Regions from separate parts of the Homo sapiens genome. Here regions 1 and 3 are each reported to be linked to region 2. Evidence: microRNA targets listed by miRTarBase, many of them from high-throughput screens and not tested one by one. Region 2 holds a microRNA gene; each other region holds the end of a gene's coding sequence.
What was found. Region 2 holds the annotated microRNA hsa-miR-491-5p (AGUGGGGAACCCUUCCAUGAGG, at 3,561-3,582, opposite strand). A microRNA usually pairs through its seed, bases 2 to 8, with sites in the 3' UTR of a target mRNA and lowers its output. Matches are read on the target gene's strand: a 7mer-m8 pairs with bases 2 to 8, a 7mer-A1 pairs with bases 2 to 7 and ends in A, and an 8mer does both.

Region 1: miRTarBase lists SH3BP1 as a target of hsa-miR-491-5p. Seed matches in the 3' UTR shown: 7mer-m8 at 425-431 and 7mer-A1 at 458-464.
Region 3: miRTarBase lists HSPA14 as a target of hsa-miR-491-5p. The part of its 3' UTR that is shown has no 7-base or 8-base seed match.

The regions. Positions count from the first base shown.
Region 1 is chr22:37,655,302-37,660,377 of GRCh38, forward strand. It overlaps SH3BP1 (SH3 domain binding protein 1), which reads left to right. Exons shown (of 18, transcript NM_018957.6): 18 at 1-816. The coding sequence ends at 383. It overlaps PDXP (pyridoxal phosphatase), which reads left to right and starts at 3,422. Exons shown (of 2, transcript NM_020315.5): 1 at 3,422-4,055. The coding sequence starts at 3,482. It overlaps PDXP-DT (PDXP divergent transcript), which reads right to left and starts at 3,076. Exons shown (of 6, transcript NR_109952.1): 1 at 2,954-3,076. RefSeq lists enhancers at 2,979-3,048, 3,059-3,108, 3,297-3,798, 4,625-5,076 and silencers at 3,299-3,608, 3,809-3,918.
Region 2 is chr9:20,714,702-20,719,701 of GRCh38, reverse strand. It overlaps MIR491 (microRNA 491), which reads right to left and starts at 3,597; the gene lies at 3,514-3,597. It overlaps FOCAD (focadhesin), which reads right to left. Exons shown (of 44, transcript NM_001375567.1): 2 at 4,292-4,380; 3 at 1,834-1,908. The coding sequence starts at 4,348.
Region 3 is chr10:14,871,325-14,876,400 of GRCh38, reverse strand. HSPA14 (heat shock protein family A (Hsp70) member 14) reads right to left here. Exons shown (of 14, transcript NM_016299.4): 14 at 4,660-4,873. The coding sequence ends at 4,795. SUV39H2-DT (SUV39H2 divergent transcript) reads left to right here. Exons shown (of 1, transcript NR_186426.1): 1 at 1-78. Among named protein-coding and RNA genes, the nearest start is that of SUV39H2-DT, 4.8 kb to the left of the region's middle.

The sequences.
Region 1 (5,076 bases), not on the chromosome of region 2:
TGCCGCCCCCCCAGGTCTCCGGCTCCCGCTCCTCCCCTCCAGCCCCGCCCTTGCCCCCTGGCTCTGGCAGCCCTGGGACCCCCCAAGCCCTGCCCCGACGTCTGGTTGGCAGCAGCCTCCGAGCCCCCACAGTGCCACCCCCGTTACCCCCCACACCCCCTCAGCCTGCCCGGCGCCAAAGCCGGCGTTCACCAGCCTCCCCCAGCCCGGCCTCCCCAGGTCCAGCCTCCCCCAGCCCAGTCTCTTTGAGTAACCCTGCACAGGTGGACCTGGGGGCTGCCACAGCAGAGGGAGGAGCCCCTGAGGCTATCAGTGGGGTCCCCACTCCCCCAGCTATCCCCCCTCAGCCCCGCCCCAGGAGCCTTGCCTCAGAGACCAACTGAGTGGCTGGTTTCTCCCTAAGCAGCCCTCAGCACCCCCTCCCTCCCCACCTGGCCCTCCCAGGACAGCTCTCGCCCCCCACAAAGGGGCATGGGCCTCCAGCCTTTGCCCACAAGTGCCTCAGTGCCCACTGGGTCGGCCCCCATGGCCAGGAGGGCTCAGGACAATCCTCTATTTCCTGACCTTTTCCTCGTCCACCCTGGGCTTGGGGACCCCCCCACCGGACTCTCCACTCTCCGGCAGGTCCTAGGGGAGCCACCGGAAGGAAGGAGAGGTTTGCCTGCTCCTACGGGACTGATTCTTCTCTTGCCGACATGTTTTTTGTAAGGCTGGTAAATAAATTATTTTGGACAAAACTGGAGCAGCTGCCCAAATGATAGTTTTATTTTCTGTCCTTGAAATAAAGAAGCCAATTTTATAAAGGGGAAAACAATACATATTCTTTGCCTCCTTTCTTCCTGTCTGAAGTGAGATCACAGCAGACATTTTTAGAGCTTTCTCTGCACTACATGCTGTGCTGTTCTGTGGATGATTTCCACTTAATCTTCTCCTACTGCAGGAAATACCATTACCTCTTAGCAGTGAGGAGACTGAGGCCCAGACAGAAGTGACCTGCCAAGGTCACACGGCAGTCAGGCAGGGGCCTGGGATTAGAGCCTAGGTCTGACTCCAAAGCCTGGCTTGTCCCTCACATTCTGGGCAATTTACTTAACTTCTTGGTATCCCTTTTCCTCATTTGTGAAACTTTATAACAATTCCCTCCACAGAGGTATTGCTCTCCATTGAAAACCAAAGCACCACCCTTGGCCCACAGAAGCCCCTACCGCTCCCACTGTTTCCTGGACCCCTCACTCTCCTTCCGGGAGGAGGCTGGGAAGCCTCCCCAAGGAGCAGGGATGGATCTGTCCTCAAACCTTCCCTAAATCTGCTCTGTGCCAGGCCCTGAGCTAGCTCCAAGACTTAACCCTACACCCAAAGAGTTCCCAAACAGACAGGCAGAAGCAACCATTAGAATCAAGTGTCTGGCCAGGCACGGTGTCTCATGCCTATAATCCCAGCACTGGGAGCCTGAGGCAGGAGGATCACTTGAGCCCAGGAGTTCTAGACCAGCCTGGACAACATAGTGAGACCCTGTCTCTACAAAAAAAAAAATTTTAATTAACTGGGTGTAGTGGCGTGTGCCTGTAGTCTCAGCAACTAGGAAGGCTGAGGCAGGAGGATCGCTTGAGCCCAGGAGTTGGAGGCTTCAGTGAGCAGTGATCATGCCACTGCACTCCAGCCTGGGTGACGGTGTAAGACCCTGTCTCAAAAACAAAAAAAATCAAGTGTCATTGCACTGGGAGCCCATATTAGCCAAGTTAGGGGTGGCCATATAACCTAGACTCATGGTATGGGGTGGGTGGTTAAGAACGGCTTCCTGGAGAAGGTGATATTTAAGGGAAGTCTTTCAGGAGCTGACCTGAAGGTGAATTTTGTTTATTTTTATTTATTTTATTTATTTTTTATTTTTTGTTTATTTTTTTTTGAGATGGAGTCTCGCTCTGTTGCCCAGGCTGGAGTGCATTGGCACGATCTCAGGTCGCTGCAAGCTCCGCCTCCTGGGTTCAAGCAATTCTCCTGCCTCAGCCTCCCGAGTAGCTGGGACTACAGGCACCCGCCACCACGCCTAGCTAATTTTTTTCTTTTTTTTTTTTTTTTTTTTTGTATTTTTAGTAGAGACGGGGTTTCACCGTAGCCAGGATGGTCTCGATCTCCTGACCTCGTGATCCGCCCACCTCAGCCTCCCAAAGTGCTGGGATTACAGGCGTGAGCCACCGAGCCCGGCCCTGAAGGTGAAATTTTTAAAGGAAAAAGGAACATTCAGGCCAAGGAGACTATCTATGCAAAGGCCAGGAGCAAAAGGCTTAGGGCACTTGGGGAATAGGAGCTAGTTGAGCTTCCAAGGTTGGGTACAAGGTACAGTTTTTCCCAAGTCGTTGGAGCTCCAGTTGCTCCTGGGGGTCACAGCCTTATCTGAAGTTGGCAGACAACTTCAAAACTGTGACACCACAGCTCACAATTCATTCATCCCCACACTGCAGACCAGTGGCTCCTCAAAGGTCCCAAGACCTGTGGTTGCTTCCAGATCACAAGGCCTCCTCCCTAAGACAGGGACCCAGCCAACCTGGGTCACCCCATTACTATTCTGGGCAATTGGCCACGACCATTCTGGATCCTGCCCTCCCGGGGCGTGCTGCAGTGACAGCCTACCAGCCTCTAGCCCAGTGCTTCCCTACCCTATCCTAGCTCACGGTAGAATCCCTGGAATTAAACCAACTAACCAACAAACCAAAAAATGCCCAGTCTTCACCCAAAACACTTACATGAGGATCTGTCCTGCTACACATCGGTGATTTCAAAAGCATTTGTCAAGACATTGAACTGTACATTTAAGATCTATGCATTTTACTATATGTAAATGATATCTGAAAATAAGTTCCCAGGGGACTCTAACGCAGTGTGAAGAACTACTGGTCTAGACCGAGGGCTCCAGCACCCAAGAAGACACCATGTGCCTCGTACCCCATCGTACACACACGTTTCTTGGGACTTCGCTCTGAACTGGAGCGTCCACGATTCAGGGGGCAATGAGATTCGACCCAAAGGCAGTTCATTTAACATCTGTTTTTCTCCCAGCAACCAGCTCGCCTAAGCTTCTGATTGGCTGGAGGGCACGGGGCCTTTCGCTTCGCGTTTTGTTTGTAGATTCTTATTGGTTAAGAAGAGCGTCAGTCTCCCACCGCGTAAGAGTGTAGTCGGCGTTGAAACTCGGCGGCGACTGGTCCAGCAGAACCAGGGACGGGGAGAAGGATCAAGCTAGCTCTTCATTGGTCCCTTCCCCTCGGTGTTGGCCACGAATCCGCCCCTCTCTCCAAGTTCCGTTAGCTCGCGGCTTCGCTCCTCTCCCAGACTCTCGCCCCCATTGGCTGCAGGCCACGCCGTCGCCCCGCCCCCCGGTCCTTCCAGCGCGCCAATTGGCGGCTGCGTGGAACGTGCCAGGGAGAGCGCGCCGTGCCCGCGGAGAGAGCGCGGCGCGGGAGGCCGGCGGCCGGCCGGCTGCATGGCGCGCTGCGAGAGGCTGCGCGGAGCGGCCCTGCGCGACGTGCTGGGCCGGGCGCAGGGGGTCCTGTTCGACTGTGACGGGGTGCTGTGGAACGGCGAGCGCGCCGTGCCGGGCGCCCCGGAGCTGCTGGAGCGGCTGGCGCGGGCCGGCAAGGCGGCTCTGTTTGTGAGCAACAACAGCCGGCGCGCGCGGCCCGAGCTGGCCCTGCGCTTCGCGCGCCTCGGCTTCGGGGGGCTGCGCGCCGAGCAGCTCTTCAGCTCCGCGCTGTGCGCCGCGCGCCTGCTGCGCCAGCGCCTGCCCGGGCCTCCGGACGCGCCGGGCGCCGTGTTCGTGCTGGGCGGCGAGGGGCTGCGCGCCGAGCTGCGCGCCGCGGGGCTGCGCCTGGCCGGGGACCCGAGCGCGGGGGACGGCGCGGCCCCGCGCGTGCGCGCCGTGCTTGTGGGCTACGACGAGCACTTCTCCTTCGCCAAGCTGAGGGAGGCGTGCGCGCACCTGCGCGACCCCGAGTGCCTACTCGTGGCCACCGACCGTGACCCATGGCACCCGCTGAGCGACGGCAGCCGGACCCCTGGTGAGCGCGGGAATGGCGGGGAAACTGAGATGGGGGCGACCTGCGCATTCGCCTCCACGCCTAAGGGTGAGGGGCGGGGAAGAGGCGTCTCCAGGTGGCAGGTGGGGAACAGGAGAGTGCGAGGGAGGCCCAGGGTGCTTTGGTGTGGGGGGCGGTTGATCCCTGTAGCCGTCATCCTGTGAGGCGCAGCAGTGTGGTCCCTGTTGGACAGATGAGGAAACTGAGGCCCTTTGTAACTTAGGGAGTTGGGCGGAATTCTGCCCTACCCACCATCGGGGTGGGGTTGGAGAGGAAGCCTGGGAGGATTGTCCCCCTGTGTGAGGGTTGAAACACCATTCCCAGAGGCAGGGTGTAGGCAGGTGTGTGGGGAGCAAAGGCGGTGGAGTTTGACCTCAGTTCCAGGTCCAGCTCCAGCTTCACAGCTGTGTAATCGTGTTCAGTTACATAACCTCCAAGCATCTCTGCCTGGGTGAGAAATGGCAGTGCTCAGCATGCCCGGTGACGGTGATCAGGGTGAGTGCCTGGCACATAGTAGGTGTTCAGATGATGTAAGTTGTAGCCAGAGTCCCCCATGTTACAGAGAACTTAATGAAACAGCTTTGTGTGTGTTCTTCTTTGGTTTCCAAATTACTCTGGAGATGGAAGTTATTGTCCCATTTCTCAAGTAAAGAGACTGAGGCAGCCGGATGCAGTGGCAACAGCCTGTAGTCCCAGCTACTCGAGAGGCTGAGGCGGGAGGATTGCTTGAGCCTAGGAGGTCAAGGCTGTAGCGTGCTATCATTGCATCTGTGAAAAGCCACTGTACTTCAGCATGGGCAACATAGTGAGACCTTATCTCTAAAAGAAGAGGAAAGAAACTGAGACTAAGAGAAGGGAAGTGAGCTGCCCAAGAACAGATATAGTGAGCCCCTCCACCTCCTGTGTCCCCACACACCTGCCTCCATCCTGCCTCTGGGAATTGGTGTTTCAGCCCTCACAAGTAGGGACAGTCCTCGCAGGCTTCCCCTCCAACCCTCCAACC
Region 2 (5,000 bases):
AAGAGCATGAGAAGGACATATAAGTAAATATAAGTTTTCATTTTAGAATACCCTATCAAAGCAGGGGTTCTAGCTTTTATAACTTTCTCAGGAATCCAGGACCACCAAAATGGTTCACTACTAACAATAAACCTATATGACTATATTGCAGATAAAGTCCATTTAGACTTACACACAGTTGTATTATAAAAAAAAAAGAACAAATAATGAAGCAATTTTTCCTTTTTCCTGATGCAACTTATTAGGGAAATATATAATTTGGGAAAAATTAATATCCCGGCTCCCAAAGAATAACTATTAATAAAAGAATGAAAATCAAGGCCAGGCACTGTGGCTCATGCCTGTAATCCCAACACTTTGGGAGGCCAAGGCGGGTGGATCAACTGAGGTCAGAAGTTCGAGACCAGCCTGGCCAACATGGTGAAACCCAGTCTCTACTAAAAATACAAAAAACTGGCTGGGTGTGGTGGCACACACCTGTAGTCCCAGCTACTCGGGAGGCTGAGATATGAGAACTGCTTGAACCCAGGAGGCAGAAGTTGCAGTGAGCTGAGATCACACCACTGCACTCCAGGCTGGGCGACAGAGCCAGACTCTGTCTCAAAAAAAAAAGAAAAGAAAATCAACATCATTTTGTACCCACTTTCCCTCTGTAGCTGGCTAAGAATCTTTTCTATCTTAGCATCCCACTATTAAAATAACAATACAGTTAACAATCACTACAGGAAGGAAATATTTATATTCCACTTCTCCTTTTATTCATAAGGACATTGTGTTCAGCTGTACTGACAATATCAAAAGGTTCTAAATGTCATCACTCTATTATTACACCGGAAAAACAAAACAAACAAATAAATAAACTGCTGCCTCAGGTAAGACTGTGTAAGCATTCATTTTTAGTAGAAGAGGAAACAGTTACAGGGATTTGACATTCAATAAATCCTGGCAGTTTAAGTAAAATCACTAGATCTTCTCAAAGTACACAATGTGATTATAGGCAGGATTAGGATCAGAGTTTTCAGAAAACCTAATTTATATGACTACATACAAACACCAGAAAAATGCCAATTAGTGAAGTGTGTCCTACACTTACTTCAACATGTCTGCAGAAGCAATAAAGAAATGTAACTTGGAGCAGCTAATCAAAAAGAATGTGAGACAAAGGAAATCAATTTATTTCTGCTGTGAAAAAAAAGAATCTTATTTCCATCACTTATGTTCCCTATAGAGGACACCTGAGAACACCTCTCTTAAAAGAAGAGTTTCCCAACTAGCAGGTCAAAACACACAACACTGATCAACCAAACCCCAAGTGTATCTCAGTAAGCTGGCATTGCTTCAACTCTGAGCATTCACCTGCTATTTGTGTAAGATGGAATTTTTCAGCTTTGACTGTCAATGTATGACCTTTCCAACTAAGAACTCACAGCTGGGGCTGAGCTGAAGCATGAGAAATCTACATCCAAACAGAGCCACTCTGTTCATTCTCTTCATTACCAAAATAATTCCCTCAGAGGTAACTCTATCAATCTTCTCTAAAGCATGCTTTCTCTCATTCCACCCATATTATTTTTCATTAATAGTCATAAGAATACTCCTCTCCAGCCCTTCCCTCCATGTCTCATTCCTAGAGGGTTTTAATAAATTTAAAACTTTTTTATTGCTATATATTAAAAAGGCAAACAAATAAACAAAAAAGGCAATGAAGTTCTCACAGTTCAAAAGCATTTCTACTGTGATCTGAACTATCAGGGAAACAAGACAGGTGCATATGTGATCCAGCTAGTAGCAATCTTATCTGAAGAGAATTAAAGCATAAAGTTAAACACAGACCTGATTTGTAGATTGGTGAATCTTTTCTGAAAAACCATTTTCCTTTAGGACTGCAGCAATAAGATGACCCACAGCCTTAAAAAGAAATAAAATTAATGAACACAGTCCCTTAGAAGTTCTTTCCAAATATCAATACTAGTTGATATGAGTATGCCAGGCAGTCAATTAGGATTAAGTAAAATTCCCATTAACTAAGTGTGTGCTATGTAGAAGGCATTGAATTAGGCACTCCACATGCACAATTTCTAATCTTCAGAATAGCCCTCAAGGTAGGCATATCTATCCCAGGTTACCAATAAGCAACTATAGTGCATAGAGGTTAAGAAAACTGCCAGATTTTTGGTTCAAATTGCTGTCAGTATCAGAAGATAACTTGAGATTGCTTACTCCATTAAAACATGAATGAGAAAGCCCATAGTTTTTAAAATCATCTTTGCACTGAAACGAAATCCACCATGCTTCATCACACTGTTAACGAATATGAAGAATATGTCTTAGAGCCAATAGGCTAGCAACAATCATTGCCATTCTGTGTACGGGTTGGAAACTACTTCACTATTGCTACAACTGTCCATCCTGCACTTGGGACCAAATTACGGTATAGCTGTGAATAACTGTCAGTCCTGCAAAGTCTCCAGAACAGCTCAAATAAAAACACAGCACCCACTCCTTCCTCATTTTTCTCTTTGTATTTCACACATTGGAACTGATTTAAGACCGTGGTGCTTGTGGTCTAGTTTTGTGATATAAGTCACTCATTTACATGAATATTAAGTTTAGTCCAACTTACTGTCTCTTATCTCCTAGTAAAAGGAATAGTAATAAGAACTGAGCACCCATGGATAGGTTGAGCTCCTGTTTTACAAAACATACCATATTTCATTGAATGGAACTGACCAGGAATTGCAAGTTGCACCATTATACTGTGTGCCACTAAGAAAGAAAAAAGGCTGCCAATTAGTCTATGATATACAGTGCTTCTTATAAGTCGGAATTTTGGTTTTATAGTCACACAAGAGTTCTTTTAGACTCGTGTAGAAAATCATGCCCAAGTTCACAAATGTGCAGGCAATACCAACTGTATCTCAACTGCTGCCATCAATTACTAGAGGCAATCCAATTTCAAAGATGTTAAAATCTGAAAAAAAACGTGTGTGAATCAAAGAAATATGGTGCTAACATCGAGCAGTGGTTACAGAAGAACAATAAGAAATATTTGCAAAGGACAGGACACAATCACAAGAACCTAATAAAACTAATATGAAACACAATAGGGACAAAGAAAAAGCTATAGTTCATATCTAGAAAAAGAAATAAAAGAAGAGAAGCTTAATTCCCCATTCCCCACCAGGTTGAATTTATCTAATATACTTTTCACTTCATCTTCTAACAAATCAGAGATACTAGCCTAAACTGATTTTTTAAAATACAAAACCCAAGGATAAATCAGCCTACATTGCTACTTAAGTGTTCTATAACAGAATTCAAATAGCCATCCTACACTAAACAATATAAATATATATATATATTTTTTTCACCTAATTTAACAGTAACACGTATGGGCATTTCTTGATTATCTATGTTAACAAAGAGACTCCAGGCACAGAAAAATAAAACTGTGAATAGTATCCTCCAAGCCTTCATCTTCTTCTTCATGGTAAGGACCTGCAGGATATGACTCCAACCCAGCCAGGTAGAAGGGAATCTTGCATAAGGAGTGTTCTACTCCTCATGGAAGGGTTCCCCACTACCCAGCTAAGTCAATTCCCACAGCAGACATCTCCGAAGTTAATTGTTGAAAGTATCCAAGGTGCTGTATGTTGTTAAGTCTTCAAGATGGCTTCTGCTGGTCTGTTAGCTTTACTCTCACAAGAAAAGACAATAAGCTATTATGATACCTTGATTAACCAGAATGTTTCTAGTTAGCTAAAGGCTACCCAGAAAGCCATCTTTGTTTTAACTATTTAATTATTGAAAAGCTCTTTAAAGTTATCACAATCTTCTATCTTAGTAGATATATCAAATTTTCTAATCCAGGATATTTTACTTATTAAATATCATTATTATAAAAATCTATATAAGGGGTAGGATATGTCTTCTTAAATATTAATCCCTCATACTCTTCAGACATATAACTGTTTACCTCTGTTCCCAATAATCATAGGCCAAAAAAAACCAAACAAACATATTCAGGGGCCTACTAGTTAATCAAGGTTTTATTATCTCTAGGAAGAAAAGTATGATATATAAACAGAAGCTGAGATTGATCAATTTCAAATATTTGCTTTCCATGTCAAATATATATTTTCAAATTAAATGTATATTTAAAGTTGTTTCACAAAATATAAATCTCTACATGTAGAATAAAATATTTAATATTAAATATATAAAGTTCAGTTAAAAATCCACAGAACAGGTTTATTTGTTACCATGAGCAAAAATAAACAAACAAAATTACCTGTGATTGGATAAGAGAATTTGGAAATTCAAACCTTTTCCTGATATCATCTGACATTTTTGCTTCTCTTACATGTATGTGTGCAGCTTCTGTAACCAAAACAAAAGAATATTTGTTAGTCTTCCAACTGGTCTGAATTGGGGCTCCAATTAATTATTCCTCAAATAATGTGAATGTAATCCATTCCAAAGATAACAATGGAAATAAAGCACAGGGCTCTGCAGAGTAATCCTTGGCAAAACTTCATTGTCATCCAGCACTCAAATGTCATGATTGATAAATAAACTAAAAATGCCCAACAGCTCTTGGTTTTTCCCATGAGAGCTAATCCTGAAAAAGATGAATTTGCACTACGGAAATGAAAAAAACATCCAAAAGTTCAACCACACATTTGAAATAGAAATTAATTCTTTTGTGGATCAAAACTTATAAGGGAGAAAGAGTCAAACGGTCATAAAATTACTTCATCTATGCCTCACTTTGGCACAAGCTTTCATCTAAGCACTAATCCAACTGCTAGTGACAAGTGTGAAGCCTAGGTGAACTTTTTTCAAGAAGTATAGAAAAGACCTAGAAGTTCACACATTAAAACAGACTGTTTCCTAAAGGAGGAACAAGCAAACAATTAGCACCAACTTTTAATATTTATATCTCACTTATCATTCCTACTGGGCTCACAAGAAAAGAAAAGTGAAAGAGAGAAAGAGAG
Region 3 (5,076 bases), not on the chromosome of region 2:
TCAAAATTTGCAATTATCTTGTCGGGTTTTTGTTCTTTGGTCTTGATTCATAATGAATGCATCGCACTATTTTGTAAATCCAGTGTTTCGTTTCGTGTCTTGAATCCCATCCATTCCAGCGCATAGATGAGGCCCTGTCTGTTCAACATTCATCACCGTGTTTACTATCTAGAGCAGCAATTCTCAAAGTATGGTAATTGGGACCCGAAGACTCTTCACAGGGTTCATGAGCGCAAAACTATTTTCAGACCAACATGTTCTCTGCCTTCCTTCGCTCATGAGTACATAGTGGAATTTTCTAGAGGTTACACAATTTGAATATTGCAACACATTGAACGAAGACGCAGGTACCAGAACATAGCTATCTCCTATTAAGCCAGACATTAAAGAGATTTGAAAAAATACAAAATACTGCTTTTGGCTAGGCAAAGTGGCTCGCACGTATAATCTTGGCACTTTGGGAGGCTGAGGAATTGCTAGAGACCAGCCAGGGCAACCCTACTAAAAAATTAGCTGGGCGTGGTGGCACATGCCTGGGGTCCCAGCTACTCAGGAAGCTGAGGTGGGAGGATCGCTTGAGCCCAGGAGTTTGAGGGTGTAGTGAGCTATGATCAAACCACTACATTGCAGCCTGGGCAACAGAGCAAGACCCTGTCTCAAGACAAAAAACAAAAAATAAAACCCCAGATACCACCCTTGCCACTAATTTTTTGTCTTAGAAAAATTATTTCTCATAAAAAATTAACTTTATTACTTAGAAATAATTTTTAAAATTGGTTTTAATTTCCATATGGTAACTATAGTTATATAACTACATTTTATGTATATGTAACAAACAAAAGCTCTATGGGTTCTCAACATGTTATTTTTTAAGACTATAAAGGGTTCCTGGGACTAAAATGTTTGAGGGTGTTGGTAAATCCTGGCTATAAATGGAGAGAGAAATAAAAAGCCACTGAGAGACACACACCAGGGTCCTCAAGGGAAAAGTAGAGAATCATGACCCTTTCCCAGTATTTTTTTCACAAAGACCACATGATTTCTGGAGTGTCTCCTCTTCTACTGAAATAAACGTTCTCTTCTGAGAGGCAAAGAATCATAGAATGAACACTAGATTAAGAATGTGAATTTAAATGAAATAATCCATGTAATGTGCTTAAAATAGTAAGCAGTCAAGAAAAATTAAGTTTACAAAATAAGCATCTGAATGTTAGTTCAAAATCCACCATTTATTCACTGTGAGACCTTGGATACTTTATTTAACTGCTGTGAATCTATTATCTGGAAAACAGAAATAACCAAGGCCATATTACTCTCTACATAGTACAACTACTCGTGGAATTGTGATGAGATCAAAATTTTAAAATGAGATAATGAATTAAAGCAAATAACAGTATTATATGGTCACTCATTATCATTTTAGATATTGTGATTTTTCCCATAGAACTTTTATGCTAGGATACTTTTAAGAATTCTTATACATATAAAAGCTTTCAGTTTGTGATGAATATTTTGTGACCTCCTGTTAAGGACTGAACGTTTTCATCTCTGAAAAATTCCAGTGTTGAAATCCTCGCCCCCAAAGTGATTATATTGGGAGGTGGGGCCTTTGGGAGGTGATTAAATCATGAAGGTGGAGGCTGCATGCATGGGATTGACACCCTTACAAGAGGGACCCTTCAGAGCTCTCTCGCCCTCTATCCTCCGTGTGAGGTTATAAGGATAGCTGGCAACCCAAAAGGGAGCCCTCATCAGAACCCGGCCCCGCTTCCAGCCTGGTCCAGCACCCGAACTGACTTCCAGCCTCCAGAACTATGATACATTTCTGATGTTTACAAGCCACCCCCCAGACTATGGTACTTTATTATAGCAGTCCAAACTAAGACACGTTCCAAGACTTTCACATCATAGGTATTTCTTCCTATTTTTATATTTGGCTCTGTTCTTCAGACAATGTCAGATGTAAATAGGCAAAACTATAATTTGACATAAGCTTTTAGTGGTAAAAGTGTTTAAGTTTAAATATGTATATATTTACTATCTGGCCTTTTATATAAAAAACTTGACCCGAGGTAGATTATTGAAACTTCCACAATAAAATGACTTCTTCAAAACTTTTCTTCCATATTTATGTAATACTTCACTTACTTGACTACTTTCCCCACATTTAAATATATACATATTTAAACTTCATGAAATATATTTACATTTCATGAGTATAAATTGCATGTATCTCATGTACATCCCAATTATCTTTGCTACGACATACATATAACAAAGATAACTAGGATGTACATGAAAAGATTATCAAGGTACTCACCAAAAATCTTTATAGTTACTATTCTGGATGGTAGAATAAAGAATGTTTTATATTTTTTTCTTTTGGAATTTGAATTTTATATTGACTATGTATCATTCTTACAAACAAAAAATTTAAAGCTATTTTCACCTTGAAAAATAAAAAAACACTAGAAAATTTTGTCAGCAAATCTTTCAAAAATTCACAAGGAAAAAACTTATCACCTGAGGGTACGAAAAAATGTGGAAGAATTTCATTAGGCAGTAGAGGACTTATTGATGACAATTTCAAATTTGATAAGTCTAGGGGAAAACAACCAAACAAACATGCAAAGCTGACCAATAAAGTCAGCAGTGCTATTCCTTTCCTTCCTTATGTTTCTAAACAAACCATAAAATATACAACAGATGTACTACTCACTGGCCATTGTCCTGTAGCATACAAACATGACATTATTTTTTCTTCCACATAATTCATTTATTTGATAAGCACTTAGGAACACCCACTATGCTCACGTACTGTTGTAGGGGCTGAGGCAAAATGGTGACTAAGACTGAGAGTATCTGCTCTCACAATGCTTAATAATCTAGTGGGGAAAGGAGCCAATAAGTAAAGCATTACATAAATATAGCAGAAAACTTTAGAAGAAGTTATTTTATTCTATAAGTTTCAATAATGTACTTTAGGTGTCAAATTTTTTATGTAGAAGGCCAGACAGTAAATATTTTAAGCTTTGTGGGCCACACAGCCTTTGTGCAACTATTCATCTCTGCCACTCTAATGTGAAAACCGCCACAGCCAGCCCATATACAATTAGAGTGTGACTGTGTTCTAATAAAATTTTATCTATGAAAACAGGGGTGAGATAGATCTGACTCACTGGCCATAGTTTGGCACCCCAGATCTATTTTAAAAGCTAACAATAACCACAAAATAAAATCCTAAAAGTTTTTCAAAGCATAATTGAAAGCATGTAGACCTAGCAGTAGAACTAGTTCAGTTGGTGTTTTCCTGTGTTCTGAAGCCACTGAATTGCTTATACCAAAATCACTTTTATTTCAAATTTTCTATGACTTTGGAAAAAGATCCTAAGAAATAACTAATAACTTAGGACAAAGAGTACACCTTTAAAGCTGCTTCTGTATTTAAAGACTCTGTGGACTTAAAATCATATCTGAATTCTCTTCATGGTTCTGTCAATAATTTGATGCAAAATAATGATGAAAAAATTTAAGTTTGGTTTCTGGATCTTTAAAAACTTTTAGAAGGGTACTACCAACTAACTCCATAGCAGCCAACATGAATAAGTTTTCACTGGAACCCACTGAGGATCTCAGGGCTCTAGTGAATATTCTCTGGTAAACAGAATGTGGCTAGCCTTCTCTTCAAACTAAAGAGATTTTTTTTTTCTTTTTTTGAGATGGAGTATCACTCTGTCACCCAGGCTGCAGTGCAGTGGCGTGATCTCGGCTCACTGCAACCTCTGCCTCCTGGGATCAAGGGATTCAGTCTCAGGAGTTGCTAAGACTACAGGCGCACACCACCACGCCCAACTAATTTTTTGTATTTTTAGTAGAGATGGGGTTTCACCACGTTGGCCAGGCTGGTCTGGAACTCCTAGCCTCAAGTGATCCTCCCATCTCTGCCTCCCAAAGTGCTGGAATTACAGGTGTAAGCCACCGTGCCCAGCCCTAAAGAGATCTTTTAATTTCAAAAGAAAAACATGTTTGTTGGAAGAAATAAACTAAACAAAACTGTAAAAAGTAAAAGCCCCTCTCCTAGTTGTTGAGTTTATCAGTTTACTTAAAAAATGGCTGTCGCTTATGCCTGTAATCCCAGCACTTTGTGGGGCTAAGGCGGGAGGACTGCTTGAGACCAGCAGTTTGGGACCATCCTGGGCAACATAGCAAGACCCGTCTCTCCAAAAAAAAAAAAAAAAAAAAAAAAATTGCCAGGTGTGATGGTGCACATCTGTAGTCCCGGCTACAAGGGAGGCTAAGGCAGGAAGACTGCTTGAGCCCAGCAGTTCGAGGCTGCTGTGAGATATGATCCCACCACTGCACTTGAGCCTCGGTGGCAGTGCAAAATCCTGTCTCTAAAAACAAAAACCAACAAAAAAAGGCATCTTACTTTCTATGTGGTCCTGAAATTTTTTTCAATTAATGTCAATGACTTTTAATTGTTCTCTTGGTTATCTAACAAGAATCAATAGAAGACTTTTACAAATTAAATGTTATAGAAAATTCTTTAACCAACTCAGTTTAATTCTAAACAGCTTCATGATAAAAAAAAAAAAAAACTTCCTTATATTTCCCAGTAATAAGAGGTTACTGTACGTCAAAAACAAAGGGTTGCAACACTTACTGATATATTGTAGTTTAATAAAACATAGTTTATACAGTTCATTGAAAAAGTATTTTAATACAAACACCACTTATACACAAAACCAAATGTTGATATTCTTGTTTTTAAAAATTCTTGATTTCTCTAAAACACTAAGATGCTATCTCAATAGAGATTGCTTCACATTTTCCAGTTTCTTGATCTGTGCATGTCACATGTAAAGATCCATCCCTAAACAGACAAAAAAATAAAGAACATTGCACAAGCTCATTTTATAAAAACATAAAGTCTGTAACAAGTTACTTGAGGGCTTTCAGTAAACAAGGGTTAATTTTAATTTTCAAAAGAAGGGTATTAATGTAAAGAATAAACACAATCTCAGTGTCTCTAAATTTAGTAAGTGTCATATGTTATATTTAGCTAGTTGTTATTAG